4 linked regions of the Homo sapiens genome follow. The protein of the gene in region 3 interacts with the protein of the main gene of each other region in a pairwise test. Each region holds a gene or a part of one and is shown on either strand. Other genes may lie near its edges. The genes, in order: SH2D3C, SH2D1A, MET and SH2D1B.

Evidence for each region.
Region 1: the proteins of MET (region 3) and SH2D3C interact in binary tests that used the Homo sapiens proteins (3 or more experiments, as listed by UniProt).
Region 2: the proteins of MET (region 3) and SH2D1A interact in binary tests that used the Homo sapiens proteins (3 or more experiments, as listed by UniProt).
Region 4: the proteins of MET (region 3) and SH2D1B interact in binary tests that used the Homo sapiens proteins (3 or more experiments, as listed by UniProt).

What each region holds. Positions count from the first base shown.
Region 1 is NC_000009.12:127,747,667-127,754,666, forward strand, and holds part of SH2D3C (SH2 domain-containing protein 3C), read right to left. Parts: intron 3,635-7,000; coding exon 3,506-3,634; intron 2,000-3,505; coding exon 1,545-1,999; intron 1-1,544. UniProt on the Homo sapiens protein: Acts as an adapter protein that mediates cell signaling pathways involved in cellular functions such as cell adhesion and migration, tissue organization, and the regulation of the immune response.
Region 2 is NC_000023.11:124,341,300-124,350,203, forward strand, and holds the start of SH2D1A (SH2 domain-containing protein 1A), read left to right. Parts: upstream 1-5,263; 5' UTR 5,264-5,343; coding exon 5,344-5,480; intron 5,481-8,904.
Region 3 is NC_000007.14:116,695,684-116,703,969, reverse strand, and holds part of MET (hepatocyte growth factor receptor isoform b preproprotein), read right to left. Parts: intron 8,221-8,286; exon of another isoform or gene 8,214-8,220; coding exon of another isoform or gene 8,171-8,213; intron 4,900-8,170; coding exon of another isoform or gene 4,886-4,899; coding exon 3,686-4,885; intron 1-3,685. UniProt on the Homo sapiens protein: Receptor tyrosine kinase that transduces signals from the extracellular matrix into the cytoplasm by binding to hepatocyte growth factor/HGF ligand. Regulates many physiological processes including proliferation, scattering, morphogenesis and survival.
Region 4 is NC_000001.11:162,408,665-162,417,137, forward strand, and holds the start of SH2D1B (SH2 domain-containing protein 1B), read right to left. Parts: upstream 3,473-8,473; 5' UTR 3,353-3,472; coding exon 3,219-3,352; intron 1-3,218. UniProt on the Homo sapiens protein: Cytoplasmic adapter regulating receptors of the signaling lymphocytic activation molecule (SLAM) family such as CD84, SLAMF1, LY9 and CD244. In SLAM signaling seems to cooperate with SH2D1A/SAP.

The sequences.
Region 1 (7,000 bases), on a different chromosome or scaffold from region 3:
TAGCTGGGATTACAGGTGCCCGTTACCAAGCGTGGCTAATTTTTTGTATTTTTAGTAGAGATGGGGTTTCACCATGTTGGCCAGGCTTGTCTCAAACTTCTGACCTCAGGTGATTCACCCACCTCATCCTCGCAAAGTGCTGGGATTACAGGCACGAGCCACCACGCTTGGCCATTAGCCCGGTTCCTAGTCGGTATCTTCCACATGACCCTGCTCTCCTCCTTTCCTATCCAGCTTCCCCTCCCACAAAGCTTAGAGCAGCCTGAGGATGAGGCTTGGGGGCACCCAGCTGAGCCAACACTTCTCAAGCTCCTCTGTCCCTCTCCTTTCCCAAGGAGGAGAGGATGGGAAAGGGGGTATAGGCCAGAATTCAACTACCCCATGAGGTGCCTTTGTGCAAATTAGTCAACTACAACCATTCTCTGGGCAGACACGGCCCCTCACTAGTGCCCTCAGCTTGATAAGCAGAATCTTTCCTCCAACCTGGAGAATGGTCTGGGGAGAGGGGCTAGCAGGAAGAGTAGTGAGCCTTAAGGAGTGGGCCCACCATCCCAACCTCTCCTCACTGCTCCCAACTATGCTCAGGATGCCTCAGGCACACATGGTCCGTGGATCCTGACACCATTATGTTTACTGGTTCCCAACCACAGGCCAAGTGGCTGCAGCCCACAGGGTATCCATTCATCAATTCCTTGACTGGGAGCACCCAACCCAGCCCCAGGGAGACAGAGCCTCAAGGGCCTATCCAAGTGCAGGTGGCACAGGACAGCAGATCTCTTTGCAAACAGCCAGGGAAACCACAGAAACTTGGGGCACAGACTTCAGAGTCTACGGACCTGGGTTTGAATCTTGATCCTACCACTCTCTAGCAAGCGGCTTCCCCCCTCTAAGCCTATGTCCTCATCTACAAATTGGGTGTATGGGCAGGACCCACCTCCCAGGAGGAAATGGGCGTTGATGAGATTGGGCACATACAGCACTTAACACTTAGTAGGATCTCAGGAACCGTCAGCTGCTGTGGCTTTTCCCAGCATCTGGGGCCTGATTTTAGCCCCGGAGACAACCAGGTGTGATTAAAATTTGCTGAGAACATCCCATTCCCTGTGCAGTGATTTGCATGCTGTAAAGCCCTCTGCTCAGATGCCCACCTTGGCCTAGCTGGGTAGGATGAGGAGGGGTGGCATCAGGTGGCGGGGACCAGGCCCCTCTCCGGTTCAGGACTCAGGGCTCCCCTGGGGTAGGGAGGGCTGCTTGAATGAAAGCCTTTATAGGTAGGAACATGGGGATAACAGAGGAGAGGTGACAGGGTCAAGGGCACATGGCCAGCGAGTGGCAGAGCTGGGACTGCAACCTGGGTCTGACTCCCTGCAAGCCCTGTGTTCTGTACATCCACAGAGTATGGCCCAACCTTCCTCCCATTCCTCCCTGCACACAGAGGCTCCAGGAGAGTAATTTCATCCCATTTCAGTGTACCTAGGCCTTCTCTTTCTCACTAGCCCTCTCATTACCCACAACCCCATTTGACAAATGGGGCCCTGGCTGACCTGGTGGGGCAGCCATCGCTGCGGGTGACCTTGTCAGCAGTGAGCCCATCGGTCATGGTGACGCTGCGCCGCTTCATGTGGCTGCCCTTGGGGCCTGAGGGGCTGACGGGGCTAGCAGGCTTGCTACTCCCCTGTCCCAGGCCATAGCTGGCCTCGAGGTAGCGCAGTGGGAAGGTGCGGTTCACCGGGCAGTAGATGATGGCACCACTCTGCTCTGACACAGCCTTGCGGCTGCCCACATGATAGCGCACGAGGGCGGGCACGTGGTCAAAGCTCTCCTGCTCAAACAGGTACTGGATGTGTGTGTAGCTCTCGCCTGCCTTCACCACCACCTTGTTGATCTTGAAGTGCAAGGCCTGGTTGCGCCAGCGGCACGTGAGCACATAGTCGCCCAGGCTGGTGAGTGAGTCCCGGATGAGGAAGTCGCCGTTGCGTTGTACCAAGGTCTCCGAGACCTGCAGAAGGCATGGTTAGGCTGGAGTAGGGTGGGGCCAGGAGAGGGTCAGACCCAGGATCTGGGGGACAGAGCAACCCAGGATTAGGGGGCACAGCAAGACCAGACCCAGGGCATAGAGGACCCAATGAACAGAGACATCTGACATCTGAGAGCGGGGATGCAATGACCCAGGTTCACAGGGGGCACCTCAGCCAGAGGCCCTGAGTCTGCAGCACAGAGGCTCAGGAATGGGAGGACCCAACACCTTGGAATGGGAGGCACAGAGGCCCAGGGTCTGGAGGAGTGAGAATGGCTGTGACCTGAGACCCAGGTCTCAGACCCATCCCTTCTCAGGGTTCCGGTTGGGCAGAGTGAATTCCTAATCCTCATTCTTCCAACCACCCAGTGCTCTGGCATGCCTCTGGCCCTTGCACCCTCAAGCTGCTTTTTTGTCCTGGAACACCCTTCCTGCCTTGTCCATCTGATGAACTTCTTTATTATTATTATTATTGTTATTATTATTATTATTATTATTAAGATGGAGTCTCACTGTCACCCAGGCTGGAGTGAGGTGGCACACTCACTGCAACCTCCGCCTCCTTGGTTCAAGTGATTCTCCTGCCTCAGCCTCCTGAGTAGCTGGCATTACAGGTGCATGCCACCATGCCTGGCTAATTTTCGTATTTTTAGTAGAGACGAGGTTTCACCATGTGGGCCAGGCTGGTCTGAAACTCCTGACCTCAGGTGATCTGCCCACCTCAGCCTCCCAAAGTGGTGAGATTACAGGCATGAGCCATCGCACCTGGCCCCACCTGGTGAACTCCTATCCACCTCACAAAGGCTTCCATCCTCAGTGTCCCCTCCTCGGGACTCGCCCATATTCTTACCAGGCACTCTATTCTTGTACTTCTTCCACTAGGCTCTGACTGTCATCCTGCCTGTCAGTCCCCCACCCTGGGCCATTAGCCATCAAGAGAAGCCACCACCTTTTCTACCTCTGCACCCTTGGTGCTTAGCACAGGTCCTGGCAGAGTTGGTGTTTGGCAAAGATCATAGCATAAATGAAAGAAGGAACAAGTGATCTATCAACTTAATTCTGTGGCTTATAAAGTCACCTCAGCCAAGAAACTCAACTTTGCCAAAACTAAGTAGCCCAAAGATTGGTACTCACTAAGCAAACATACAAAAGGCAGATATGTAGACCAGTAACAATAACAGCATAATAATAAGAACAAAGGCCAACATTCATGGTGTCAAGCATCATGTTAAACATTTTACCTGCATTATTTCGTTTAATTTTCACAACACCCCTTTGCAGTAGATACTGAGGCTCGGAGAGGTGAAGCAACTTGTTCAAGGTCACACAGTCAGTAAAGGGCAGAGCTAGACCTCATCCCAGTCCATTCTGATTGAATCCACCAAGCAACAGGTCAGAGCCTCCCAGGTGGCTGCAGCCAGGGCTGGGGCTGGCCAAGGCAGTGGGTGGGAGGGTCCCGGGTTGAAGTCCAGCTCGGGGCCTACTCACCTCTCGGGGGATGCGGCCATGGTACCAGGCATGGCTGCGGAGATCCGTGCTGCTGAGTTTGAGCTCCTCCTCCAATTCCTTGTGGAGTTTCTCTGGCGATGAGTCCAGGATGTACTTCTCCTTGGAGAACTGGGTAGAAAACAGCAAGAGTTGGCATCCAACTTAAAGTCTCCTTCTTCTTTCCCTCCCAACTTCATTCTACCATGGATGAACTCCTCCTATCCTGGGACTCTGGGAACACTAAGGCACAGGTGCCAGACCCTTTCCCATGGGTCCCAGAAAGAGTAAAGAAATCTCAATTCCTTCCACAAAACAATGCCAGCTGCATTCCAGGCCCTGTGCTATATGCCAGGGGTGGATGCAGTGATATATAAACCAAGCCCGGCCCTCAAGGCAGTGCCTAGTCTGAGGAGAGGCAAAAGCAACAGGAGCCTCTGAGTAGAGTGCGGTCAGCACCACAGCGCTGGACAGCGGCAAAGAGCCGGGTGGCTTTTACAAGCGGGATTAAGCCTGGGCACGACAGAGGGGTCTCGGAAGCCTTCCTGGAGGAGATGGCAGTAAGAAAACACTCATTATATACCAAGGGCACCAAACTGTTCTTGAAGTGTTGGAGGGGGATTTCTACAGGTGAATCTTGGAGGTAAGGCAGCAGGTAACTGCAGGAAAAGCTATGAACAAAACCACAGAACTGGTTGGACAAGGATACGTTCTGGGATGGTGCATTCTACAATGCAAGGGTGGGGAAGGGACTATAAACAGGGACACGGGGACCCCAAACAGACATCTGCATTGCCCCTTACAATTTCCAAGGCCATTTCTCCCTTGAAATCCTCAGCAATCCTCACCCAGATGGGGAGACCATGGCCCAGCAGGGAAGCCCAAGGCCACTGAGGGAGATAATGTCCAGTACTCCACCCTCCCACCTGGCCCAGAAACTCCTGGTTTCTTGATTACTGTGGCCTGAAGTTGGAGGCTGATGGATCCCAGGGGCCCTAAGGGAAGAGGAAAGGAAGCCCTTAATGCCAGGTGTACGCCCACCAGAGCCCAGCCCAATCCTGGCTGTGCCTTGTGAGCTCTCTGGGCCTCAATTTCTTCCTCATTAAAATGGGTACAGTGACAGAACCTGCCTCACCTCACTGCGAAGATGAAAAGAGACAGCACTCCAGAGTACTACTAGCACATGGACATCCTCATCACTGCGAGGACATGGGATGGTTCTTCCTCTCCTTCCCCCACCTCCAGGCCCCAAAGATGGCTACTCCAAGACAGACAGACCCCAGCGCTGGCCAGAAGGCAGGACAGATGAGGGAGGGCAGTAAAGGGCCTTCATCCCAGGTGAGTCTCTCCCTGGGGCCCCTCGCTCCTGAGAGTCCGAAGGTCCTCCAGTCCACTCCCTGCCTCCTCAGACTATCCACAGATCTCGCCTCCTAATTCTGTGGCTACATCCCTCACCCCTCTGCTCCCATACTGCCTGGGTTTAGCCTAGTCTGCATTGCTCCCAAGACACCATGATTCCCAGTGTCAGAGATATCTAGAATCTCTGATTCCATTCAACATTGACTAGGTCCCTATCCTGGTCCTGTGCCAGGGCTGAGGACCCAAGGTGGCCTCTGCCCTGGGGGAGGCCTTGCAGACACTGACAATCAATTCCAGGTTTCCTGAATGTCCCGAGATGCACAGAGATGGTGCACCACCAAACTAGTCAGGGGGCAGAGTCAGGAATCACTTCCCTGAAAAGGTGGTGTTTCTGCTGAGGTCTGAAGGACTGGGTGAGCCAAGCAAAAGCACCAGGGTGGAGAGGGCAGGTGGACAGGTGGACAGGGAAGAGCTTCTGGGGAGAGAGCGGCAAAGTCAGGGTCCTACGGGCAGAGCCAAGGGGAGGGAGGGGAGATGAATAAGAAGCTTCCAAGGGGCTGTGGGGGCAGGGGCAGGTGTGGCACGGCTGCCTCAGGGAGCTGGGGTTTATCTGGAGGCCACAGCAGAGCCATGGAGGGGTTTGGAAGTGTTGGGGCAGGTTTAGTCCACTTATGGAGAGCAGCCTAGGGTTTTCCAGGCAGTGGCAGGGCAGATAAGGCGTGGGCAGAAGGAGTGGGGGAAAGGGAGTTTAGATGGCCATTGATTCATGTGGGGGAGCAGGGCGGAGGGGTCAGAGAGGACTCCTGGCCGAGATCCTAGAAGGATGATTGGGACATGCTCTGAGTGGGCAAGGCTGGGGCAGGAGCAGCTTGGTGGTGGACCCATGAAAATTTGGACCTTGAGGAGCCTGCAGGGCTCTGGGGACAGATGGTGGGAGTGGGCGGTTTGCACAGGTGCTCAGGAGAAAGGCGGGGCCTGGGAGTGGGAATTCTGCACATCCTCCGGCCGTGGTAGAAACCGATGCCCCCGAAGGGCAGAGAGGCCCAGGGCTGGGCTAGGATCTGGGCCTTCTCAGACACCTACACTTCTCCAAGGGGTCCCCTACTTCTGGGGGTCCCTGGTCTCTCTCCCTCTCACTCTGCGGTGCTCACACCAGGCTAGTCCTCTTTCCTCATATCACACCAAACCCTGGAAAGGGGAGAGTGGGCGTCACAGGGAAAAAGGGAACCAAGACCTCAGCCTTCTGGCGTCCTCCTTGACAAAGGGCATGCGATTGAGACCTTCCCCCAGTTCCACAGCTGGAGCTAGAGGGACGTGGGCAAAGGAGGGAGGAGGCTGGATGTTGAAGAACCGCCCCAAGGCTGCCACTGTGTGACCTTGAGCCAGTCACTTCCCCTCTCTGGGCCTGGGCAGCCTCATCCGTTAAAGGGGCTGGGAGACTGGGCTCCCCTTTTCCAGCTTAATCACTGGTCACGGAGAGTTTGGGGGGACCAACTTGGTCCTCCCACACACCTGAGGGTGAGGAATCCTAGGGTCCCTGTGCCTTGATCTCACCTCGACCTGGGAGCCCCCAGTTCCCTAGAGTTGGGGGTGCTGGGGTGCGAATGCAGCATCCCTGCGCTCGGCGCCCTGCTATTGGCCAGAGATGATCTCACCGCCTCCCGGCCTGCGCGCGCCTGATTGGCCGGTGCGGGGATGCTGCGCTCCGCCGCCGGCGGGGCAGTCCTTCAGGCGGGCTCCGCGAGCGTGTGTGAGCCTGGGGGAGCGAAGAGCCGACGCGCCTGGCATCTCCCAGGGGGCTCAGGGGGCAGGAGCGCGGAGACCCCCGGACAGGGTCTTAACCCCTTCCCGCCAGCCCGAGCCCAGCATCCCCTCCAGCTCCCCTCGGCGTCCCAACCCCAAGCAAAGCCATCCCCAAAGGATGCTCCGCAGAGAGGCGGGGTCCGGGTCCTCCCCTCCACCCCCTTCCGTTTAACCCTCTCACCGCCGCGGCGCCGTCCTGCACTGCCCGGCCAGCTGGGCTGGGAGAGACCCGCGCCCCAGGCATGTCCAAGCCCACCTAGAGGGCGGGAGGGTGGCGGGCGCTCTGGCCCCAACCCTGGCATCCGAAGCATCCCCCGCGTTTCCTGCTCCTCACTC
Region 2 (8,904 bases), on a different chromosome or scaffold from region 3:
TTGAGCTTTCAAGAAAGAGAACAGATTTTTTAGATGAAAAGCCGCAGACTCATTTACAAAGACGTAATATTTTCTTGTGCTGATAGCATACCCTGAGGGCCCCCACCCAGGATAAAGAGAGGCGGAAAGAAGATTCTGTCGCGATCCAAAGGCAACTGGTTGATGAGGCCAAATAAGTACATGATGATTTATTTGTGTGTCAGGTGCCAAGGTGTGGGATGTGAAGAGTTATATCTATAAACCAAAATGAGGCAGACCACAGGGTAGACGTTGGTAAGTGATGAATGTGAAAGAAGTCAATGTCAGAAATGATATACTTCTTGAGGCAAATTAGAAGCCACATTCTCTGCAGAGGGTTCTCTCTATAAAGGGAAAAAAGAGGGGGAAAGGAAGGGAGCTAACTAGGTGCCAGGTACTCTTTTAGGTTCTGGGTGTGCTAAGAGGAATATGACATCATCTCTGTCTTCCGGGAGTTCACAGGCTAGTAGGAGAAAATAATATTGTGTATTTGTTAGGCTCCAGGCACACCGCATATACCATCACATCTATCTTCATGGAAAAAGATAAAAACTAATGAGGAGTGGCCTTCATTTGGTCTAGAAAACATTCAAAAAGGAGAATGGGGTGATAAGACCTTATCTGTGTATCCAGGTCTTCCCAGGAGAGAAAATATCCGTATCACTTTAAAAACAAAACAAAACAAACCAACCAAACCCAAACTACTCAGTGTTCTGTTACTTTGGATGGATGAGCTTATGATCCTGTTTCCAGACCCATAAACCCAGGAAACAAAACTTGACTGTGAACTGAAGACCCTTCCAAGACATAGTAAATAAAGAGAATGAGGCTAAAATAGTATATCTGATTTGATAAGACATATAGTTATATATAGACATGCTATGAGTCAGGGCATGGGACCAGTTGACACTTGAAATGTAAGAAGAATATTCTAGAAGTCCAGATTACAGTCGCTAGATAGGAGACTGAAGCCTGAGCAATCCAGTGCAGTGACCTCAGAATTAATGTTGGGAGGCAGAAGAGGATAGTGGTGAAGTGCACAGGCTCTGCAGTCAGTGGCCTGTGTTCATATCCTGGGCCTGACATTGACCAGTTGTGCCACCTTGAATAGGCTACCTAGGTTCTCTGGGTTTCAGTTTCTTTGTCGGTAAAATGAGACTAATAATAGTATTTGCTTCACAGGGTTGTTGATATAAATAAATGAGATAATACATTCAAAGTGCTTAGCAGGATGCCTGGAATATAGTATGCAGTTAACAAATATTAGCTGTTGCTATTATTCCGAGAATGAAACCTCAGAAGCATGCAGAGTTTCAGCTAGAATGAGGGAACTTCCTTTGAGTCACGAAGGAGGCAAAATTCGTGCAATAAAAAAAAAAAAACCTGTACACAGCAGACAGAAAGATAAAAACACTTTCCATCTCGAATAGATTGTGCGAGTTAGAATATAAGTTGAGTTAGATATGCCACTACTATGTCCCTAGAGCCCCATCCTTTCCTCTATCTCAGCTCTTGTTAAGTGAATTATAATTGTCTGTTTGCTTGTCTGTCTTCTTCACTGGACCTATGAGCTACTTAGGGGCAGATACTGTACTTTTCTGTAACCTAAGTACCTACTATAATGTCTGGCATATGGTAGATGCTCATAAGTGTTGGTTGAAATAATAAAAATATTTAAGACAGGCTTAAATAAACACACACAACAACCCTGTCTCTGGCTTCTCACTTAAAAAGGGCATTTAGAAAGATTGGCCTCATAGGTAAACCCAGAGATTATCAAAAGGAGGTGCTCTTTTGTAAAAAAAACAATTTTTTTCTTTAATCATTTTTGTAAAGGAAGTGAATTTTAGTAAGTGCTGAGAGAATGTGTAAACTCACCACAGGTAACACTGTCATAACACTGTCACAGGAGAATTCACACCTATAAATGAGCTAGTGGAAGAACAAAGTTAGTTTTGAAAGGTCAGAGAAAAAGATTTTGAAATGTCAGAGCCACTCTATAAAACTGACCACCCTTGGCATCATTCTTTTAATCTACCTGGGTTTGAGAATAGCCTAGGGCATTTGAAATGAAGACAATTAGCACCTCAGACAGGGCTTCCACATGCAAAATTCTGTCACCTCTCAGAGACCTCAGGAGTTGACAAGTTTGGTTAAGAAGATACTTTCAACCTTGGCTGGCAGTTTTTCTAAAATTTCAATGCTTTTATAATCTGATTTAAATGGCATCTATATTCTAAAAGGTTGTAACTGTGAAGCTCTCTTCCTCCATTCTATGATTTTCCCCCTTAAGTTATTGTAAAATGTCAAGAATGAAAATATTTCCTTTATTGAGGGAGATTGAGGAAACAGGTCTTTGTTCTTGTGCACAAATAAGTTCAATTCATTTCCCCTCTGTTTCTCTCTAAAACACATTTGGCTTTTGTTTAGAGAATAGAATGTTAAACCTAGACGTGACCTTAGGGGTCATCTGGTTCAATTCCATTTGACAGATGGAGAAAATGAGACTCAGAGAGAAGTGATTTAGTGGCAAAACATGGCATATATTTCAACTCTCCTACTTACTGGACTACTGCTCCTTCCAATTCATCTTGTCATTTCAAAGACGACCATAGGCATGTAGAACCAATATTGTGTGTGTGTGTGTGTGTGTGTGCGTGAGTGTAAAAGAGAATTTCAGTATTTTTTCTTTTATTGAGAGCATTAAGTTCATTCATTCATTCATTCACACAACAAATATATATAGCACCTACTACTTGCCAGACACAGGATACAGTGGTGAGCAAAGTACACAAAATCCCTCCATCATGGACCTTACATTCTAGTGGGGGACACAGACGATAAACCATTAATTAAATAATTCTGCTCCTAAGTGGTTTATACTTGTACTTGGGGTCCATTCTTCCTAACTCTTTCTCTGTTGGTGCCTCTACTATCTCCATTGCTCTCCTCTTTCATTTTCTCCCATTTCCTCTCGTGTGTATGGGGAGAGAAGGAAGAGAGTCATTTCAATTCCTCTTTTCTCTACGCTTCAAGCTCAGTGTGAAGTTTTGAATTTGCTAAAGTCAGGTTTAGTACTGGTGTAGGATTAGAGTGAAGATGTCAGTATTTTTCATCAACACTGCACTAGTGGGCTGGCTCGGCTGGCTCAGCTGTCAGCTTGCTTGTAAGATGACAATGAGGTACTGGATGTGAAAGTTGTACTATTACCTTATAATTTATCTGTTTTTTAGTGCAATTTTAGTTGTGCTGAACCCCGTCATACCTGGCTGCTTTGACAGGTGTGCTATTTTAGCAACATGGAACAAAACAGAGAAAGAAAAAAAGAGTGCATGGTACGCTTGTGCTGTCAGATCCAGGTTGCTCTGTTCCTAAGTTTATGGATGATTTGTTCAGAGTTGTTAAGAGACAAAAAAAGGTTAGGTTTTGTTTTCACTTATGTGACACTGAATGTTCTCACAGTTCACCTCACAGGTCAGCTGTTGCTCATATGGACTGATATAAAGGGATCCCTTTCCCTGTCTCCTTTCTATTTGAAATTCCACCATTTTGATTAATTCCTCTGGGCTAACCATTTGCCTGCTCAATATATGGAGAGCCCAAGGTGGACAACCTTTCAAATCCTTAATGTTGGAGTATGCATTCATATATCAGATTAATTTCTTCCTTGATCCAAAGCATGAAAAGGGGTAAGAGGTGGAGTTGGTCAAAAACATGTGAGGAAGGAAGATGATAAAATAATATTGGTCCCATTCCCCAGAGCCATCCCCAAATGTCACCTTGAATGCTTTAAAAAAAAATTCTTAATGCTGAAAATGACTAGTAGGAGACTTATGTTTATACTTTGCATACTAAGGCTGGACACTCTTCAATCAAGAAGAAAAGTTGCTACCAGCTACCACTGAAATCTTAGAGGATTGTTCTTAATCCTAGTAGATGAAGAGCAAATATCTGCCTTTGGTGCAAGTCAGCTCTGTACATCCAATCCATTGGTAAGACATGTGAGGAATTAAGTGTCGTTCTCGCTATTGAGTTCCCAGCCTTGCCATATTCTCAAAGAACTACACACTGAAGTTGCAGAAAGCATATAATAGACGACATAGCTTCAGTTATTTAAATTCAAATTTTAAAAGTACTTTACATAATCTAAAGGTACATGTACAAGACCATTCAGCTTCAGCAATAAATAAAGTCTTACTCTAGTGAAAATGCAGGAAGCTTTGCGGAAATATTACCTAGCACATTTTGAAATAGAAGCAATGTTTTATTTCAGAGAAGAAAATGAAGGTTGAAAGGTTTTAAAATATTAAAGACAGTTTAGCCTCAATCGAAGAAATAACATTTTCTAGAAACAACAGAGAATAAAAGTTACAACAAAATTATCAACAACTTGCAAATGATTCAAAACAGATTTTATGGACAAAATGCTGAAAGGTGGGCCCTGTACACCAAAGGGCACATACAAATCCACATAAAGGCAAAGCACCAGTTAAATGATTCACAGTCTCATCTAAAGCCCATCAAATAGATACATCTGGAACATCTTTGGATGTACATTGTGACTTTTGTATCTCAACTAGCACTTTGGGACCTTGGACAAGGTGTTAGGAAAGAAATCAATATTTGCTCAGGATCAAGACTTCTCAAGATGACTGCGTGAGGTAGAAGGAAGAGGGAGAAGAAGAACTTGCCCAGAGTTCACTGTTCATCTACTATGTCTGATTCTGTAGGAGTCTTCATGGCCATGTTCAGTAATGATTGCATACTGACAGTACTGATAAAACTATCAGTGTTTTGTTCTCAGAGCTCTTGGTCCTTTCATTTTGTCAGTGTGTTTTTGCCCTACGTAGTGGGTCCACATACCAACAGAGACATGTACAACTTGCCTCTATCATCAACTCCTTATGGGCTAGTTGAGCTAAGTTATTCCTGGTGGCCTCTGAGTAAACCGCAAGAACAGAAGCATTACTAAGCATCCCCGTCTGAGTGCAAGGGTGTGTGTTGGCAGTACAGCCCCAATCTTGCAAAATCCTTCTTCCAATGTTCCTCCCCTCTCTGTATGAACCCTGTGTTGGGGGGCAGAAGATGGAAGCCCTTGGCAAGCTCGATCGAACCAAGCTACTAAATTGCTGAGCTCGTTTTAACTGAAGTGTGAGAAGGAGGTTTAAGGCAAGTAGACAACATCCTGTTGTTGGGGTGCTTCTCTCTTTTTTGCACATCTGGCTGAACTGGGAGTCAGGTGGTTGACTTGTGCCTGGCTGCAGTAGCAGCGGCATCTCCCTTGCACAGTTCTCCTCCTCGGCCTGCCCAAGAGTCCACCAGGCCATGGACGCAGTGGCTGTGTATCATGGCAAAATCAGCAGGGAAACCGGCGAGAAGCTCCTGCTTGCCACTGGGCTGGATGGCAGCTATTTGCTGAGGGACAGCGAGAGCGTGCCAGGCGTGTACTGCCTATGTGTGCTGTGAGTATGATACGGTGGACATGGGCCTGCTGAGGGTGTGGGCGGTGGGCAACAGCAGCTGGGGCCAGGGTGGAGGCCGAGGCAGGCAGGGGCGCCGGCGTTAGCAGCTCGCCGACGCCTCCTCCGTGGCCCACCCTCAAGTCCAGCCCAGGGCCGTGGTGGAACACACTTTCGCCTCAATCCCTCGCTGGGGATTTCATTCCCTGGGCCTCCTGCTCTCCAGAAGGCCCTCACCAGAGCCTTTTGGGGCAGCTGCAGAGAATGCCATTTCGGGTGGTGAAATGTGGTCCACAGTTTACCTTCGCTCCGGGAAAGACCCAGGCTCCCCACTTCCATTTTGACCCCTATCGGGTGGCGCCCTGCGAGCCTTACTCTAGCTCTCTTTAAACGACTTTTGAAGTGTCATCCCAAAGGAAGAGCATGACATTCAGAGAGAGGAGGCACATTAAGAAACAGAGTCAATTACTTTAAGAATGCAATGCCAGTTAGGTCGAGATGCTGAGAGAGGAGGGGGATGTGTGTCAGTAAAATCACCTCTCTGGATCTGCTGATGTAGCATCCTTTAGAAAAGTAGTGGGGGGTGGGGAGGGGCAGGGGATTTCAGAAATAGGACCCTTCTTGATAAACGTTAGGACTCACAATAGTCTTAAAGGGAATGGAGGGAAAACACCCTTGTTATGATTCAGCTTTGCCATTTGCCTAGGCATGTCTCATTCTAAGGCTTCATTTTGAATCAAATTCATCTGCGTCTTTGCTCCAGGGCTCCGGAGTCAGGCAGATCTGAGACTTTGTCCTGTGCTCGTCAGATGTTAGGTTTGTGACTTGGGCAAATTAACCTCTCAGTTCCCCAGTTTTCTTATCCATTGAATAGGTATCATATTACTGCCTACCTCATAGGATTGTAAGATTAAGTGCCATAATGCAGTAAAAAAATTAGCACTGGGGCCTGACACCTAGTAAATGTTCAATAAATGTAAGCTATTGGTATTATTATTATACCAAAGATATATTATTATTTTATCTTCTCTTTTCAGTTGATTTCTTTTAGGAATCATGGGGGCATTTCTAAGGAAGGACCTAGCTCAGGCATTATTGTCAGCAGGATAAAAAAAAAAATCCATGAAAACAGCAGCCCTGCATTGTAGGTTCTAGACAGAAACCAAATGAGGTTAAATGCTTGGTAGTAAGTTCAGCATCTGATAATACCCCACAAGAGTTTGAAATACCTTATGGGTCAGTGAAGAAAGATTATCCTGATGCTGGTGCTAGAAGATTTTTCACTGTATATTGTTTTTTAAAAACGGTCAAGCCTTGTTTGTGGCAGCTCTCAGGTCATGCTAAATACATTTTTCACAAAGGCTTCAAGGGAAATACGTGGAAGCTATTGAATGTCTTGGGCTTGAATCTTTATGTTTTGCTTATATAATTATTGTTCCCGTGTGGAACCTAGGGAAGGGCAATGAAAACCAGCTAGGATTCTTAGGCTCTTTTCTCATTGAAAGAAGGTGGAGTGAGTGGGTGGGTGAAAGGCGCTGCTTTAGGGAAGCTGACAAAGGAGATAACATGCTCCTTAACCCAAAGGTGAAAAAGAATGTACAAAACAAGTCTGGGCAGGGGAGGGACAACAGGGTATAGTGAGAGGCAAGATATACCTAAGGCTTCAGCCTCACGGGGCTCCTGGCCGTTTCTCAAGCTCCTCAAAAATGCCCCCACTTAGGATTTCTGCGCTTATTGTTCCTTCTGCCCAAAATACCTTCAGTTCACATGTTTGTTCAACTGTCTCCTCCCTCAGAGAGGACTTGCTTGACCACCTATCTAGAACAAGTGCCCTCTCCCTGTCCCTGATACACTCACTCCATCTCTTTATTTTTCTTCAAAGAGCTTTAAACTATCTGATAATTTGCTTGTTTACCTACTTATTGCTGGGCTGTCCTGCAAAAATATAATCTCCATGAGGGCGGAGATACTGTCTCCATCACCAGAAACACAGGAACACATAATAGGCACTCAGCAGATATTTTTGAATTAACAAACTGTCAAGGCAAATTCTGTTCTTTACTGCAATAAACGGAATGGCCATTGAGAGGTTAGGGTATGGACTCTGGGAAAGTCACTCAAATTCTCTGGGACTCAGTTTCCATATTTATAAAACAGGAATAGTAATGTGTATCCTACCTTCTGCAAAAGATTGCCTTAAGTACCTTATGCAAGAGAGAAGGGCAGCTTTAGACTTTTGCCTATGTAGGCCGGAACCACATGAGGAATTAACTTAGGCAGGTGAGAAATTATCAAGCATTTAAGTTTTCGCCCAAAGTGAATCTTGCATAAATGCAGTTTTTATGACTCTTAGTTCTCCATGAAAACCTCCTTGTGAAGTAGCGGAAAATACTAGACAAATTGGGAGTTCCCTTACGGTGTCTTTCAAATGGTACACTGGGGCCTCAAAGTCTTATGTGACTGTTAGGGTGATAGCCAGAATGTGCTGCAGAGGGAAGATATGAGGATACATTGCCTTTTATCAGTTTCTCAATGTTTTTGAGTTGAGTGTCCCTTTTGATAAATGTAAAAATTTCATTCCCTCTTTTTGGTGCTACACTGTAATTATAAAATCAGATTTTATTTAGAAATAAACCACGTACTCATTTTAAACCAGAACACTTATGATATGCAGTCGAAATAACAATATAAGTGGTATCATATACACATGGACAACAAGGTATAGCTGACAAACATGCATTGATTGTAGGGTTTACTCAGAATGGTTTCTCATTCTATCTTTTGTTTACTCCTATTAACCAAGAAGATTTAATTGAGCTATAGTTTTTATATTTTTATTGTAGAGATAATACATTTCATATGCCTTCAAACTGTACTTTAAACTGTACTTTCAAACGATGCTTGCCCTTTTCCCCAGTTCTGAACCTCCTAATCATGGCTTTCAGATATGGCCTTTTCTTCTGTTCTGATTTAGAAAATCGAAAATTGAACTGCTTCATAAAGCACTAAAGGAGTTTTCCATTTATAGGATTGCTCACCTTCATTTTAAGTAATAAGTATTTCTTTCAATTACTTTCTCTAAATAAATATAGATTTTTGTATAAGTCTATTAAAAATAGTTCCTTATACCTATTCATTATAGAAAATTTGAAACATATAGATAATAGAAATTAGAGAAAAATCATCTATAGTTTTATAACCTAAAGATGACTATTGCTAAAAATTAGGTGAATTTTCTTCTATATTTTAATAAGATGAATTGCTTTTTGAGCACGTGTGCTCTTACAATTGTATTCTTACGAGTGACGTATTTGACTACTAAAAAGTTTGATTTTTGTATGCGTCAAAAAAAGTAAGGGCAAACACCAAATGTTATATATTTATATATATATAAATATCTAATATATATAATATATAAATATATAAT
Region 3 (8,286 bases):
TCTATAGAGCAAAACTTTGATAATAGAACTTCAAGAAAAACAGTGTTGTGTGCTAATTGTATTTTCTGAGAGGCGAGAGCTATTTCAAGAATGCTTTTCTAATTTCAACTTTGATTAAAATTTTTTCTAAAATGTACGATTTCACTTGTTTTAATAAATATTCTATAACTTAGGGAACAGGATCTTTGCTGATTTGGGGATTTAAAAAATTCTCTTATTCTGTATTGATTCTCATTTGTAGGAGATTGGGCCAATGTGTACTGATTCTCCTTTTTTTCCTGAAATTGTCACATTAATCAATCCCTTATATGTAAAAGACTGTTAGAGATTCCACAGTCTTAAAATTAAATTCCACTTAATTTTAAACAAGTTAATGAAATTTTTGCTACTGCTTATCCTCAAATAGAGATGAGGGTTTTTTCTCCCTACATATGGGCCTTTACAAAGGTTCCATCCATATTATGGGACAATTTTCTCAATTATTTTATTTTGAATAATAATATGCTATTTAGAGAATATGCATTAGCCTAAAACAACTTCAATCAATACTAATTTAGGATGCTTATAGAGGTTGATTGATGAATGGGTAAAGGAGGAGGTAAAGATATTAAACAGATTTAGTAATTATTTGTGGGTGTATAATCTCATAGTACTCAATATTGGAAGTCACTGTAAACAAATTCTTTAGAATCACTTTCAAAAGCAACATAAAAAATGGACACATTGTGAGGATCAAGAATATATTCTTATAGAACAACTGACATAGTCAACAACACTGGTATTCTATAAGTGGGCATTTGTGGCTTGGGATAAGTTTCCAGAAACAGCATCATATGTGGAGACAAAGAGTTCTGAAGCACAAATAGCTTATGGGTGAAGATGACGAGTACTGGGAATTATCAAATGACTCAAAAGAGGGCTTTTGTGATGTCATCAATATGAGAAGATGCATGTGAAGAGTTTGCATAGACATATTTCATGAAATGTGAGACTGGGAAAAGCAACAAAATATGTGATCCTAAACAAGCAAGTCAGGCCTGGTACACCTGCTGGACCCCTAAAATGTAAAAGGCCCGTCCCTGGCACTCCCATTATCTGATCTTGTGATAGAAACACTTTTTGCACATGGTGGAGAGCTCTTGGAGTGCCAGGAAATCCCTCTTTCAGCAATGTGTCAACACTGAGGACTGGGCAGAAGCATAAGTAGAAAGTTACTGCTGCAGCTCAGCTTTCTTAACCTTGTCCACAAGAGTCCCTTTATAAATGTATTAGAGATGTTAATAACAAAACTACAATATGTGTGTCTTTTCACCAAACTTGATGCCAAAGTAAAAACTCAGTTCCAAGAAATTATTAAAAGGGTCACTTGATTTCTGGCCAAGTAAATCTGCCAAGACAAAATGGAGTCATCTTATTGCTTGAGAGTCCTGCTAAACAGCTTTGATCTTGTAATCATTTTGTTTTTTTTGTGTGTGATGAATGGCTCTAGGTGCCTTCATTTTGGCATTAAGCTAGGAAATGATTATATGCTCATTATTGGAACAATCTGAGGTCTGGATGGGGTATATGGAGAGAGAGAATATGTGTAGTCTCAGTCTCAGAAGAATTTTGATCTTTGTAACCAGAGAAGATAAACAGGCAAATAAATAGAGGAGGTTTGAAGGTATTTGTCTATGGAATTTGGCCAGTGTAAAAGTTGGCTTCCTTTGTAAGAAGACTATGTTGGCAAGTTCCATCTTGTTTCCCGCAAGAATTTTTGTGATGGGAGTGATAATGGTTTCAGGTGTGGCTAGTGCATTTTGGGAATTTTTCCTGGGCGATAAAACTGACCTGAATTTCATTGGCTAATCCTGTCTGTTTGTCTCCCTTGGAACACTAAAAAAGTCAAAAGGGTAGGATAAAATTCAGATGTGTTTTGAGAATTTCTAGAATTGATAAGTATTTTTACATCTAAGGATTGAAATGTACAAAATTTAAAAAATGAGATATCAATATACCTTTATGAATTCTCTTTTTAATTTTTTTCTTGCCCTACCCTTCTTTTTAATTTTTAACAAAGAAAGATTTAAATAGCAAATCCATGTGCTCTAGGAGCCCTGGAGGAATTCCTAATAGACTCTTTTAAAACTTGTGTCTCAGAATCAACTTACTGGATGCAGAAAAATATCTTCTCTGTAATGCTATTAATATTATATTTTTATTTCCTAATCCCAGGTTTCTGAAAATCATTTTGTTTCCTTTCATTCTTTTGTAGTTTCTAGTAAAGAAAAGGGGGAGCTTCATAAGGAATTCTATTGCTTCTTTGCAACATATATTAAATGTATGTAGGGGGAAATAAGTCTTAGTTGGAATGTATGTGCATTTATGTTATGTATATTCATAGACTTTGGAAGAGAGAGGAAGGAAGTTTTGTTTTTAGTTCACCAAAAGATGAACTGACTTTCTTGGAAGTATTTTCCTAGCATCATAAAAAGTTAACTATAGTTTCCATCTAGAGAAGTGTCCCAGACATTTCAGCAAAAGTCAACCAAATGTCTCTGAATTCATATGCCTTTACCCCTCAGCAAATTATATACTTTATGCTACTGAGGACATGTTTAATGTTCTACCTGATTGCAATTATAACCTTTATATCTTAGATTGAAACCTGTTAAAGTAAGTGAAACATACCATGCCAAAGTCAAACTGTCTTTAGAAAAGCTATACTATTTGTTCATTCAATGATGGTCATAGTCAGGTCCGTATTCCAAATCTGGCCCAGATCAAGAAACTCAAAGCCACAATAAACACTCAGACCAGGTGATCAACTGACTAGCAGGATAAATCTCCAGGTATAGCTGGTAGCTGTTACTATATTTAAATCACAGCACCAAGAATATCTCTAACAGCTCCTAAGAAAATACCATTTCATATAAGTATAAATAATCATCAACCAAAATATTTATGCTTATAAATAACAAATACCAACCAGGTAAAGTGCCAAGCTAGAACTTGGTAGACACAAGTCTTTTCCAGAAGGAAGTCCATGATTAAAGTCAAGCTCTAAAGGAAGGACTTGGGAACAAACATTTCCTCTCTACTCTTACAGGTTATTTAGAGAAGTATACGAGCTCATTTAAAAATGTTTTATTTACCAGCATTTCAGAAGAGGTTTTTTAAAGTTAAGTTCCTTTAAGTAATGTCAAGAATATAGATTAATCAGTTGTGTATCAGTGAGAGAATATAATCTCATAAGGAACAATTCTTTAAGGCATACAAATTAGCTTGAACATCTTGTAAATGTTGCAGAGATTATATAGAAATGTCAATAATTATGTTTTATGGGAATTGCTGCTGTGATAAAAATCTGTGTAAATCTGATAAAATCTGTGTAAATCTGATAAAATCTGTGTAAATATAAAAAAGCTTATATGGGAAATAACTTTAATATAATCTGAAATGTCACGAACATGCAAATCTGAATTGTAAAAACATTTTTCTTTTAGTTACCATTTACATTTTAAAGATATAATTTTAGGTGTAAATGAAGATTCAATTCCTCAATTTTCTTGGAAAAAATCTGCAACTATTTTGGATAAACACCATTTACAAAGCACAAAAGAAGCCCTGGATATTCTTTTTGAGACTGATACTTATTTCTAATTTATACCTCACAGTTTATAAGTGGGGAACTGATGTGACTTACCCTATTAAAGCAGTGCTCATGATTGGGTCCGTAAAAATGCTGGAGACATCTCACATTGTTTTTGTTGACGATCTTGTTGAAGAAGTCGTTGACATATTTGATAGGGAATGCACACATGGCAGATCGATCCATTGGTTCGGCAGAATCTGGCTTGCTTTGTGCGAACACCCCGAAAAGAATGTCATCATTCAGGCTGGCTCCTATTTGTCTAGCAAGCTGGGCCCCAGGCTTGCTGACATACGCAGCCTGAAGTATATTAAACACTTCCTTCTTTGTGGATCTCTTTTTTCTCTTTTCTGTGAGAATACACTCCAGAGGCATTTCCATGTAGGAATGCAATCCAGAGTTTATGGAACAGAACCTGATTATTCTTGTGTGAAAAGTCTGAGCATCTAGAGTTTCCCTTTGGACCGTCAAGAAGTAAATAAAATTGTTGCTTTCAAAGGCATGGACATACTTAATGGGGTAAGAATCTCTGAACTCAGGTAAAACATCAATGTAGGACTGGTCCGTCAAAAACATAAAACCATCTTTCGTTTCCTTTAGCCTTCTCACTGATATCGAATGCAATGGATGATCTGGGAAATAAGAAGAATTTATGGTATTGCCTACAAAGAAGTTGATGAACCGGTCCTTTACAGATGAAAGGACTTTGGCTCCCAGGGCGCTCACCACACAGTCAGGACACTGGCTGGGCTCTTCTATCTGTGGGGAGAATATGCAGTGAACCTCCGACTGTATGTCAGCAGTATGATTGTGGGGAAAGACATGTCGCTGGCAGGTCCCTCTGTTGACGCTGCCACAGCTAATGAGTTGATCATCATAGTAGGTGTCGACAACTAGAGCCATGTTGATGTTATCTTTCCAAACACCTCCTGATAAATTGGCTTTGCTGCTGCAGTCCTGACATGGGAAACAATCTGGGTGTTCCAGCACAGGCCCAGTCTTGTACTCAGCAACCTTCTGAAGGTCTTCCTCATTTAAAACATAAATGTAGTTAGTGGCACCAAGGAAAATGTGATGCTCATGTAGAATGACATTCTGGATGGGTGTTTCCGCGGTGAAGTTGGGAAGCTGATACTTCATATTCACATTCATCTCGGACTTTGCTAGTGCCTCTTTACACTCCCCATTGCTCCTCTGCACCAAGGTAAACAGGAGCACGAGGATGCCAGGTGCAAGCACAGCGGGGGCCTTCATTATGAGAGGTTTATCTGCCAAAACAGGTTCAAGGCGAGAGCAGTTCAGTTGTCAGAAATGAAGAGAAAACTGAAAGACCTATACCATTTAATCTATCAGAAATAAAGCTTCCCAACTGGACTTTTACATAGAAGGAAAACAAAAACTCTAGCAAGTTTCACATAAAGATGCATTGTGCGGTTGGACATGACTCCACATAGTTTAATTTTAGAACTCAAGCCATGAACGAATAATTTTAGAGAACCATTGAGATGCAAACAATGTTCTGTATTAAGGTTGATACAGTAACTAAGTTAGACTCATTCAGCAATGAAAGAAAAAACATAGCAACTTTCTTTCTTAACCCCTTGCTGGTTGTTTAACGTGGTTTAATAACTGTGGTTAATGACTAGGTTGATATTTAAACTTTCTCTGTTAGTCAAGTAAAGGAACTGTGGTTCACATTCATTTATTCTAGAAATCACAGCAGGCATTGTTTTCTTGAGCGCATGTAGAATTACTAGGCTAAATTTAGCTTCCTTTTGGAAGAAAACAATCATAAATTCTAGAAGCAATATGATCACATGCTGTTTATAGGATTTTGTGTGGAGAGGAATGGTATGGTTATAATTTGGCTATAGTTAACCTATTGTTTTAGACAGACAAATGTTTAATGTAAGATCACTGGGAACTGAAAAACAGGAGGCTGAAAATGTATAAAATACAACATAATCTTCAGAACTAAAGTCCTAGAACTACTTCTCAGGGAAAAACAACATATTGTTCATTACCAAGTCAAAAAGCTATTTAGTAAAAAGAACATTATTTTAACATTTCATTGTATGCATATAGACAGTATTTCTATGAGGAAACATGAATGGGCCTGTTATTCAGTATTTAAAACTTAAGGTGCACAAGTTATAAACATTGTGAGTTCTCCTTATAATAGTTATAGGCAGGGTAGTAGGTTGGAAAGGAGAGGCCTTAGAATGAATATAAACTAAATAGGTATGACTTTTTTTTAAATAGCATAATTCTGATAGGACAAAGGGAGCCTCTAAAAACATACTAGGCATCATGACTGCCAAAGACTAACCCTGGATCTACAAAAACCACATCAGAAATCACTGAGCAGCTGGTATGTGCAGGGCACTGTGCTTGCGCTATGAGAAATGGGACATAGCCCCTGCCCTTCAGTGAAGCTGCAATGTGGCTGAGTGATAACACATATATGCTGATTATTGTGGCACTGCAAATGGTATTACAATACCCTGCATAGCACAAACCAAAAGCTACAAGTATCAAGGGAAAAAAGCACAGCCTGTACTTAGGATTATTATGATCATGAGCAATAGAGACAAGTTCACCATGTTGTGAGGTCCAGGAGAGCAAGGACAAGGTCTGCTTGGCTCATCATTGTATCCCAAGTACCTAGTACAGAGCCTGAGATGCAGAAGGTGTTAAACAAATAGATACTGAATAAATGATGAATAAAAATTAAGCCGAAATTCGAAGTTACATAATGGTTAAGTGTAGTAGCCAAAATTTGCGTCCAAAATTTTTTGACTCCAAATCAAAAATAATTTTACCCTACTAATAGTCTAAGAATTGGGGACTTTAAGAGGTGATTAATAATCATTAAGGAATTTTGAGCTAGACCGTCATACAATGAAGGTTTTACTCTAGGAAGATTGATCTGGAGGCAGGGTGGCTTAGAACAGAGAGATCCTGGCAATGGAAAGACCAGTTGACAGGCTATTTTTATATCCCATAATGAGGTAACAAGAGCCAGAACAAATATGGTAGCACCAAGGATAGAAGGAATGAATAAGGGACATATTTGAATAAGTAGGATTTGATACCCTAATATATCAAACACAGTGCAAAAAAGAAAGCAAAGACAAACAAAGATGATTAGCAGTTATCTGGAAAAAGTAGAACAAGTTATAAAACTAGGGTAGACTGCACTGGGAAGTTAGGCTGAATATATGGGAATGGTAGATTGGTTTTAACCACGTTGAGTCGGGTGTGCTGCTGGGAAATGAGTGCATATTCTCCTATAAGGATGACTAGCAGGTTTTACATTATTCACCAGGAAGCAGGTGCCTGGAACAAGTGAAGAATGAAAACTCTGGGCAGACAGAGCATTAGTGCCAAAGAACAGAGGCGGAAATGAGAAGGATTCTGAGAAGCCTGCCTTGACTGGGAAAGCGGCATGATCAGTCTTGGGTGAAACAGTATCTGTCTTGAGTGAGACACATGAGTGTCAGGTATTTGCCACTGCTGCACTAGAAGGAATAAAAATTTAGAACTTGATTGGCAGAGTAACAGAGACTCCACTCCGACTAGAAATAAACTTTGCACATTATCTGCACAGAGGTGATGGTTAAAACCAGGAATGGGTGTGTTCATGAATGGACTAGATGAAAGAAGAGAAGGCAAATGGCCTAAATCTTAGGGGATACCCACAGTTGAGAAATCTATGCAGGAGTCAAGGAAGGTTAAGGTCAGTGAGGCATCAAGAGAGCAAATATTGCACTGTGTCACAAAAGCCAAGTGAGGGTCTCAAGGAGGACGTTGGTCCACATGGAACCCGTTTGTTGATCTTCAAGGCAGTAGTTTCTATAGTAGTATCAGATGTTAAATTGAGGGAATGGGTGATGAAGAAGTAGAATGTTTATCAAAGGGAAGACAAGCAAAAAGTAGTAACAGGGTGAAAAGGAGTTTAAATTGTGGGAAAGACATATGATTATTGGCAGGACCCCCCTTTCTTCTACTAACATTTATTGGATGTCTACAAAGACATGATGCCCTTCCCTGGGAAGCTCAAGTCACTTGATGGTTAACAGTTATCAGAATGCAGAGGAAGGGAGACCAACTCGACTGGAAATGATGCTAGAGCCGAGTCTCAAAGGAGGATAAAGAATGAAAATTCCTGGCTGAGCGCGGTGGTTCATGCCTGTAATCCTAGCACTTTGGGAGGCTGAGGTGGGCAGATCACTTGAGGTCAGGAGTTTGAACCCAGGCTGACCAACACTGTGAACCCCCATCTCTACTACAAAAAAATTAGCTGGGTGTGGTGACAGGTGCCTGTAATCCTAGCTACTTGGGAGGCTGAGGCAGGAGAATTGCTTGAACTTGGGAAGCGGAGGTTGTAGTGAGCCAAGATCGTGCCACTGGGGGTACAGGTTATGAAGGGATAAGCCAAGCTAGAGAACTGTAGTTGGACCAGAGGACAAGATGAAGCCTCAGTAAGGCAAAGCCATGTAATAATAAAAATAACAAGAACATGTATTGAGTGCTTACCATATGGGAAGCATTCTGCTAAACTCTTTGATTTACTCTTCATCACCACCCTGTGAAGAAGGAAGTATTATTATCCTTCTCTTCTAGATAAGCAAACTTGCTAAAATCACACAGTT
Region 4 (8,473 bases), on a different chromosome or scaffold from region 3:
CGGCCTCCCAGAGTGCTGGGAATACAGGTGTGAGCCACCACGCCTGGCCCATTTTTTAGCATCTCTTAGTGACCTTTGCTTTAGATGAATATGCAAGATGGGCTGATGCACCACAGAACAGTTGAGAATAAATATCAATTTTCAAAGAGAATCCCAATATAGGCTGGGTGCAGTGGCTCATGCCTGTAATCCCAGCACTTTGGGAGGCTGAGGTGGGTGGATCACTGGAGCCCAGGAGCTCGAAATCAGCCTGGGCAACATAGCGAGACCCCATGTCTACAAAAAATTTAAACATTAACCAGGCATGGTAGTGCGCACCTGTAGTCCCAGATACTCAGGGGGCCTGAGACAGGAGAATCTCTTGAACCCAGAAGGTTGAGGTTGCAGTGAGCCATGATCGCACCACTGCACTCCAGCCTAGGAGCTGGAGTGAGACCCTGTCTAAAAAAAAAAAAAAGAAAGAAAGGAAGGAAGAGAATCCCATATTGACCATATACCCTGAGATCCTGGCCAAGGTCTGTCCTTGCACCTTCTTGTTTTTTCCCTTCCCACTGCTTGCCCCAGCACAACTAGCTCTTCACCGTCTCCCGTCCAGAGACACAACAGTTTCTGTTGCCATCATTTCCCAGCTTCATTGTGTTCTCCACGTCAAATTGAAGTTCCTAAATTCACCAGTCTTTTCACTTCCCTGCTCAGAAACCATCCATGTTTCCCTGTTATCTATAGAACCATTCTTTTAAAACTCCATGATCTTATCCCACCCTCCTTTTCCAAAAGCTGGTTTCCAAACTACATTTTAGGAACCTTGTATGTAAATCCTTTAAAATATCCCACTTCTAGACTCCTGTTCCTACCTCCTCCCCTTCCTAAAATGCCCTCCATCCCATTTACATGTAAGCAGATCTTTTCCACTCTTTGTTTATTTTATTTGAGATGGAGAGTCTTTCTCTGTCTCTCAGGCTGGAGTATAATGGCGCGATCTCGGCTCACTGCAACCTCTGCCTCCTGGGTTCAAGCGATTCTCATGCCTCAGCCTCCCAAGTAGCTGGGATACAACTGCACCCACCATGCCTGGCTAATTTTTGTATTTTTAGTAGATGGGGGTTTCATTATGTTGGCCAGGCTGGTCTTGAACTCCTGACCTCAGTGATCAGCCCACCTCAGCCTCCCAAATTGCTAGGATTACAGGCATGAGCCACCGCGCCTGGCCAATATATATTTTTCTTTAAATGGTACTGTTGGATGTAGATATGAGAGAAATAGCCTGTATCTCCAGTACCATTTAAAGAAAGAAATATGTCCCTGTGTATTCTATTAGTAATGACAATCACTTTTGTCTATAATCAGACTTCTGAGCCTATTCCAAGGCCCATTTGTGTACTTCCTTGTAAAATCCAGTTTTAGCAAAGAACCCTACTAAGTCAGTTTGGCAAGGACCCCTCACCCTAGCTATCTGATCACTGTTGGATTCTGATCAGATTCCTCATCCTCCACCATCCCCCAGGCAACATCTGATCACCCGGGCCTGTCTTCAGCTACAATTCTGTTAGGCTGGTTTAGCCAGAATCCACTTTACCCCTGATGTTTCCTCCGAGTAATTTTCTGTCTACCGACAGCCACACTGCTCCTTGGCCATAAATTCCCACTTGTCCATGCTGGATTCAGAGTTGAGTCCAGTCTCTTTTCTGTGCCGCAAGAGCTCATTGCAGTGGTCCCTGTACCTTTGTGATGATCCTGAATAAAGTCTTCCCAACCATAATTTAACAAGTGACATTGAGTAATTTTTTTCTTTAACAAGAGACATTTGGATTTTAATTTCTGTTACAGGTATAATAAAAGGTTCAGTGGTCCCTACTTTACAAAGAGGAACATACATAAAGATAGGAGGTTTCTAGTGATTTCTGTTCAGGATTGCTTTCTAAACTGGGCATAAACAAGTTCCTTCAGCTAGGTCTCTTTGATACTGTGGCCTGGAATTTGTTTTTCTTTTTCTTTTTTTTTTTTTTTTTGAGATGGAGTTTTGCTCTTGTTGCCCAGGCTGGAGTGCAATGGCACAATCTCAGCTCACTGCAACCTCCACCACCCGGGTTCAAGTGATTCTCCTGCCTCAGCCTCCCAAATAGCTGGGATTACAAGCATACGCCACCACACCTGGCTAATTTTGTATTTTTAGTAGAGACGGGGTTTCTTCGTGTTGGTCAGGCTGGTCTCGAACTCCCGACCTCAGGTGATTCACCTGCCTCCGCTTCCCAAAGTGCTGGGATTACAGGAGTGAGCCACTGTGCCCAGCCACTCTTTTTTCTTTTTTTTGGACAGAGTCTCACTCTATTGCCCAGGCTGGAGTGCAGTGGTGCAATCTCAGCTCACTGCAGCCTCTGCCTCCTGGGTTCAAGTGATTCTCCTGTCTCAGCCTCTCAAGTAGCCAGTATTACAGGCACACGCCACCACACCAGGTTAATTTTTGTATTTTTGGTAGAGATGGGGTTTTGCCGTGTTGGCCAGGCTGGTCTCAAACTCCTGACCTCAAGTGATTCACCTGCCTCAGCCTCCCAAAGTGTTGGGATTACAGGCATGAGCCACCATGCCCAGCCTGGAATTTCATGTTTAACTTAGACTCTGGAAATTCCAAATGAGTTTTAACACAAACAAATTATTTGAGAAATTCAGGTCTCTGTTTCTTTACCTATGAAATGGTGACTGCTTATGCTTGCCTTGATAGACTACTAGGATGAAAGGAAATGACGAATATTGAAGTCCTTCACAAATCTAACAAAATGTGAAATATGATTGTATTTATAGTTTACGTATTGCAAGCAGATGCTGCAGAATAAGTGTTTCAGATTGAAATTTCTTGAAGAACCCCTAGCCTTTTCCATACCAAATAAACAGATCTCTGGAGGACAGGACCTCTGACATTTGTACCTTCTTTCCATCCCTCTGTACCCCTGTACTTCCTGCAGCCCTTCCCTTCACCACCACCATGTCCCTCCTGCTGCTGCAGAGTCTGCTTGCAGGGCCTTTACACCAGGGAGAGCAGGCAGATGGAGGAGCATGGACAGATACATTCCTCTCCTGGCAGTGTCCATTACTTCTCATTCTACTCATTGAGACTCCAAAGTCAGAGTGAAATACTGAGGGATATGAATTCCTGTACTGTGTGGCAGCCATTGCCACATTCAACATACGATGTCAGATGTGTGCAAGATGAGGCTACTCACGAGACACAGAGGCACAGGACTCCTGGTATCGACTCGCTGTCTCTTAAAAGAAAGTTGCCATCCACCCCTTCCTTGAGCAGCAAGGTCTCACAGTCTTGCTTGGTCAGACGTCCATGGTAGTAAGGCAGATCCATGGAGAACGCTCTTGTATCCCAGGAAGCCCTGTTGGCCTGAAATTCACCCCCAAGTCAAGGGACAGCTCTGAGGAGAGATGTGTAAGCAGCTGTACCTCCTGTGGAGCTACCTCTTCCTCTAGCGGTCTGTGGGACTCAGCCAGCTTCACAAGATTCAGGAAATGAGGAGGGCGGGGTGATAAAATGACCAACACTTTTCACCCTCTAAATGGCCCACATGTGACTCACAGAAGTAGGTAAAGCACATTTAAACACACAATGGAATCAGTGATGCTCATGGCTAGGGAGGCAATGCTGAAGTCAAGCTTCCTGGAACTGTGTTGCAGCCTTGTATATTACCATGGACTATCATCAACTTCTTTGGCTACTGGTATCCTTTCCAGGAAGCACACCGCTGCTTTTGCTGTAATGGTACCCATTTTCTGCTGAAGTTGCCTAGGATTGGGCTATGCTTAGCTTAGACTGGGTGCTCAAAAACCATTTGGATGCTGAGAGAATTGATATGCTCAGATACAATGGGAAAATTGAAAGGGTGGGATTTCCGTGGATCAAATGACACTAAAAATGGAAGACATTAATGGCAATAAAAAACAGTGGGACACTGTGGATGAGGACAGCCCATTCCATGGCTAAGGCTCCCAGCCACTGGTGAAAAAAGGCCATTTGAACACCCTCAAGCATTGTTCCTTTTGGAGAAAGGGCTGGTGTAGGTGGGAGGGATATCTGGGTATACTCATATATCTACAGAAAATCACTATATATATCTCAAAAATGTTATCTATGAAAATAGAACTATGTGCTAACGATTCATCTTTACTTCTCTTAACTTCTTCTTTTTTTTGTTTTCTTCATCTCCGTAGTACCTGGAGATCTTAACTTCTTCTTAACCTAGATGTTTATTTCACCTTGCTACTTTGCTTACCAGCTGTTTACTCACAGTTGGGTGTATCTTCTATGGAACTTCCTTGTAACAGATCTTTGTTCTTCCTTGGAATTCCCACTCTGCATTTGGCATAGTGCAGTTTCACTGATCAGGGAACTCGTTATCAGACAGATATGCTCTCAAATAGCAACTTTTCTTCTGTGGTTTTGGACAATTCATTATTCAATTCTCTGGAAACTATGGCAGTTGAAGACAGAGTTGTTAATAATGAAAGAAGAAATTTGGTATTTCTTGTGAATAAATTCACAATCGTGGTGTAAAGATGCTTTTTGACATAAGAGAGGAAATAACTGAAAGCATGCTCAGGCTCTTGGTCATCACAGGGGCTTCCTTGCCCTTTTTGCTGTTTCAAAATCCAACCCTCACAATAAAAGAAATGCAAATTACCTGCATGCTGAGATAACAACTCTCACCTATCATATGGGTGAAAATCAAAAGTTTGAAAGCTTATTGGGTTGGTCATGGTGAAAGAAAATAGAATATCTTGTATATCATTAGTTGGAATAAAAAATAGTTACAACTATAGTAAAAGATGGTTTGGCAATATCTTGCAAATTTATGTATGCCTTCACCATCTGATAGAACAATCTCAGTTCTAGAAATCTGTCACAAAACTACACAGGCAGAATTAGAAAATGACTTGTGAATAAGGTAGTATTTTTTAATAGAAAAAGATTACAAACAACTCAAAGACTTGTGAATAGAGGGACAGGTGAATAAACTGTGATTCATGTATACAATGGAATATTACTATAGAATAATAAAATGGGATTGAGGAAGATCTCTATATGCTGATATGCAATAATCTTCAGGATGTATTTTTAGGTGAAAGCAGCAAGATGCACAATAGTATATAGAGTATGGGGGATATAAATAAATATATACATTTATAATATTTGCTCATATTTAAAAAACAAACGAAACACCCACTGGAAGAACAAAACTAAAACTAATTAAAACTAAAAACTTCTGCCTCTAAGAGGAGAGCGGAAACATGCATAGAGGTGAGACTTCTCTCAGTAAAACTTGCTGTAGAGTTGTTGGTTTTTTGTTTTGTTTTGTTTTGAGACAGAATCTCACTCTGTTACCCAGTCTGGAGTGCAGTGGTGTGATCTCGGCTTACTGCAACCTCTGCCTCCCTGGTTCAAGCAATTCTCCCACATCAGCCTCCCAAGTAGCTGGGACTACAGGCACGTGCCACCATGACTAGCTAATTTTTGTATTTTTAGTAGAGACAGGGTTTCACCATGTGGCCCAGGCTGGTCTCAAACTCCTCACTTCAAGTGATCTGCCTGCCTCGGCCTCCCAAAGTGCTGGGATTACAGATGTGACCCACTGCGCCCAGCCTGCTGTGGAGTTTTGAATGTAGAATCATGTAATTGTTTTTTTGTTTTGTTTTGTTTTGTTTTGAGACAGAGTCTCACTCTGTCGCTCAGGCTGGAGTGCAGTGGTGCGATCTCGGCTCACTGCAAGCTCTGCCTCCTGGGTTCATGCCATTCTCTTGCCTCAGCCTCCCGAATAGCTGGGACTACAGGCCCCTGCCACCACGCCCAGCTAATTTTTTGTATTTTTAGTAGAGACGGGGTTTCACCATGTTAGTCAGGATGGTCCCAATCTCCTGACCTCGTGATCCACCCACCTCGGCCTCCCAAAGTGCTGGGATTACAGGCGTGAGCCACAGCGCCCGGCCATAATTGTTTTACACATTGAAAATAAACAAGTAAAAGGGTATTCCTAAAAGGAGGAATAAAAACTAAAATAATGTATCTAACTGAACATTACTTTGGTAATATAATCATAAAGAAAATTATTTCAACTGACTTTAGAATGTAGAATTTGAGTGAACAGTTTTAATTAAATATCTTGTACATTAAATAAACTAGCAAATAAATTTAGTGATAATTTGGTGTAATTTAAATATATTTAACTCATATTATAAGATAAACAAAAATCATACTGATATTAACATTTTAAGAACTAAGTAAGGTAAACAACTGTACCAGTTTGCTTATGTCTGAGGGGTTTCCCAGTATCTACGACTTTCAGTGTTAAAGACAGATGAGTCCTGGGAAAATTCTAGAATCAAGATTTTTTTTCAGTATAAGAAAAGAGATACACATATAAAAGCAAAGAAGTTAAATAAAATTTTTGATGCTAAATTTGAATTGGAAATATCAGCATGGATTTACAACTTGCTTTTCAACAAAAGGCCTAAAACAGGGGCCAGCAAACTTTTTCTTAGGCATTGCAGGCAATAGTCTCTGTTGCAACCATTCATCTCTGCCATTGTAGTGTAAAAGCAGCACTATGGGCTGTAGTTTGCCAATCCCTAGCTAAAACAATGAAAACTTGGTAGCAATGAGCACACCTAGGGATAAGGCTATGGTCTCTAAATACCACTTCTCCTATAAAAGAAGCAAGAACTTTTTAGAGAAATGGCTGAATTCATGCCAGGGACATATAAGTGTGTCAGTGAAGACTGAGTCATGTCAAAGGACATAAGACCCAATATGGAAAAATTTAAGTATCAAAGGAATAATGATTGTGGTTGATCAAAATACGTTGAATTTATATTATCCAGTAAAAGATCAACCTTGCCCAAATATAGATGTAGCCCTTTGTCCTAGCTCCTTGGAGAAAAGCTTTAAGCTCTTGGAATCCAGTGTATGGGACATTCAGTAGAACAAATAATGTGGTGTCTTCATAGGTTGTAAAAACTGAGTCAGATAGTTGGGTGAGAACTGCTCTAGGTTAAAAAGATGGTTATGCAGCATGAAACCAATGCTAGATGACATCTTGTTTGGATCTTGGCTTGAAAAAACCAAATACCAAAAATTTAGTGCTGGGGGAAATTTAAGTATTGATTTGATATTAGATAGTGCGTGTAGCAATGGCATTATGCTTTTGTGAATATAACTTTTAGAGATACGTATTGAAGTGTTATGTCTGATACTGGGTGATTGTGTGTGTGGTTCATTATATTAATGTCTCTTTTTGCATGTGTTGTAAAGTTTTAATAGTAAAAATATCTTTCCATTCCCATATTATTCTGATCCCATGTCACCTTTAAGAATAGCTCCACAGTACACAGGAATATCTTCAATTTCTTGCGTGGGTCCCCTTTCTCTCATCCACAGAAACAAAAACCTAGCACTATGTTTGTAGAACATGACCCTATTCTTCTGGCCATGGGTGATTTGATCAAGGATAGGCCTCCGACCTAAGATAAGTTAATCACAAACCCTTATCCAGGAGTTTAGAGAAAATGGGGAAATGAAGGAAATGAGAGAGAAAAAGAGAGAGAGATGAAAGGAAGGAAGGAAGGAAGGAAGGAAGGAAGGAAGGAAGGAAGGAAGAAAGAGAAAGAAAGAAAGAAGAGAAAGAGAAAGAAAGAAAAAGAAAAGAAAGAGAGAAAGGGAAGGAAAGAAAGAGAGAAAGAAAGAAGAAAGAGAGAGAAAGAAAGAAAAAGAAAGAAAGAAAGAAAGAAAGAGAAAGAAAGAAAGAGGGTAGGGGGCTGGGATGGGTAGGAAATGGGAATGGAAATTAATTCTCTAGGAATGGCTGTGTAACAGGTACATTTTTACACTGTATACTGGTGGCCATATCCCAGCAAGCTGTCAGGAGAAGAGAACTGGTCTGCAAAATGAGGAATGAAGTGGACACATGAAAAAAAGCAGAGTCAAAAGATAGTCTCACTTGGATTTTCCATGGGTTTTCATTCCAGGATTCAGTGATTTCTGAGGTCTGGCTACATGCTTGCCCTTGAGTTTTTTTGTCATTTTAATAGATTTCCCTTTTGTCATAAGCTAGTTGGCATTTGTTTTTGTTATTTTCTACTAAAGATGTCAAATAAATCCAGCCTTACAGATAAAATTCTGTTCTCAAGACCAAGGAAGCATGAGGCCAAATGTGAATCACAGTGTTGTTCTGAGTGAAAAGTCACGTAGAAACTGGACAGTGTGGTGTCAACCCCAGAAAGCCCAAGATCACAAGATCATCACTGACCACAGCAGCATGGCAAATGCTTGTGTTGTGCTTGTTAAAAGATGCCTGATGGAGGGCAACAGTGTAGGACCTCCCACTTCATTCCTACTGTCTTATCGTAGGAGATAGCACTTTGTCTATCTCCTTAAAGAGCTAACTCATTGCATCACCATCATTCATTGAACATACTTTAT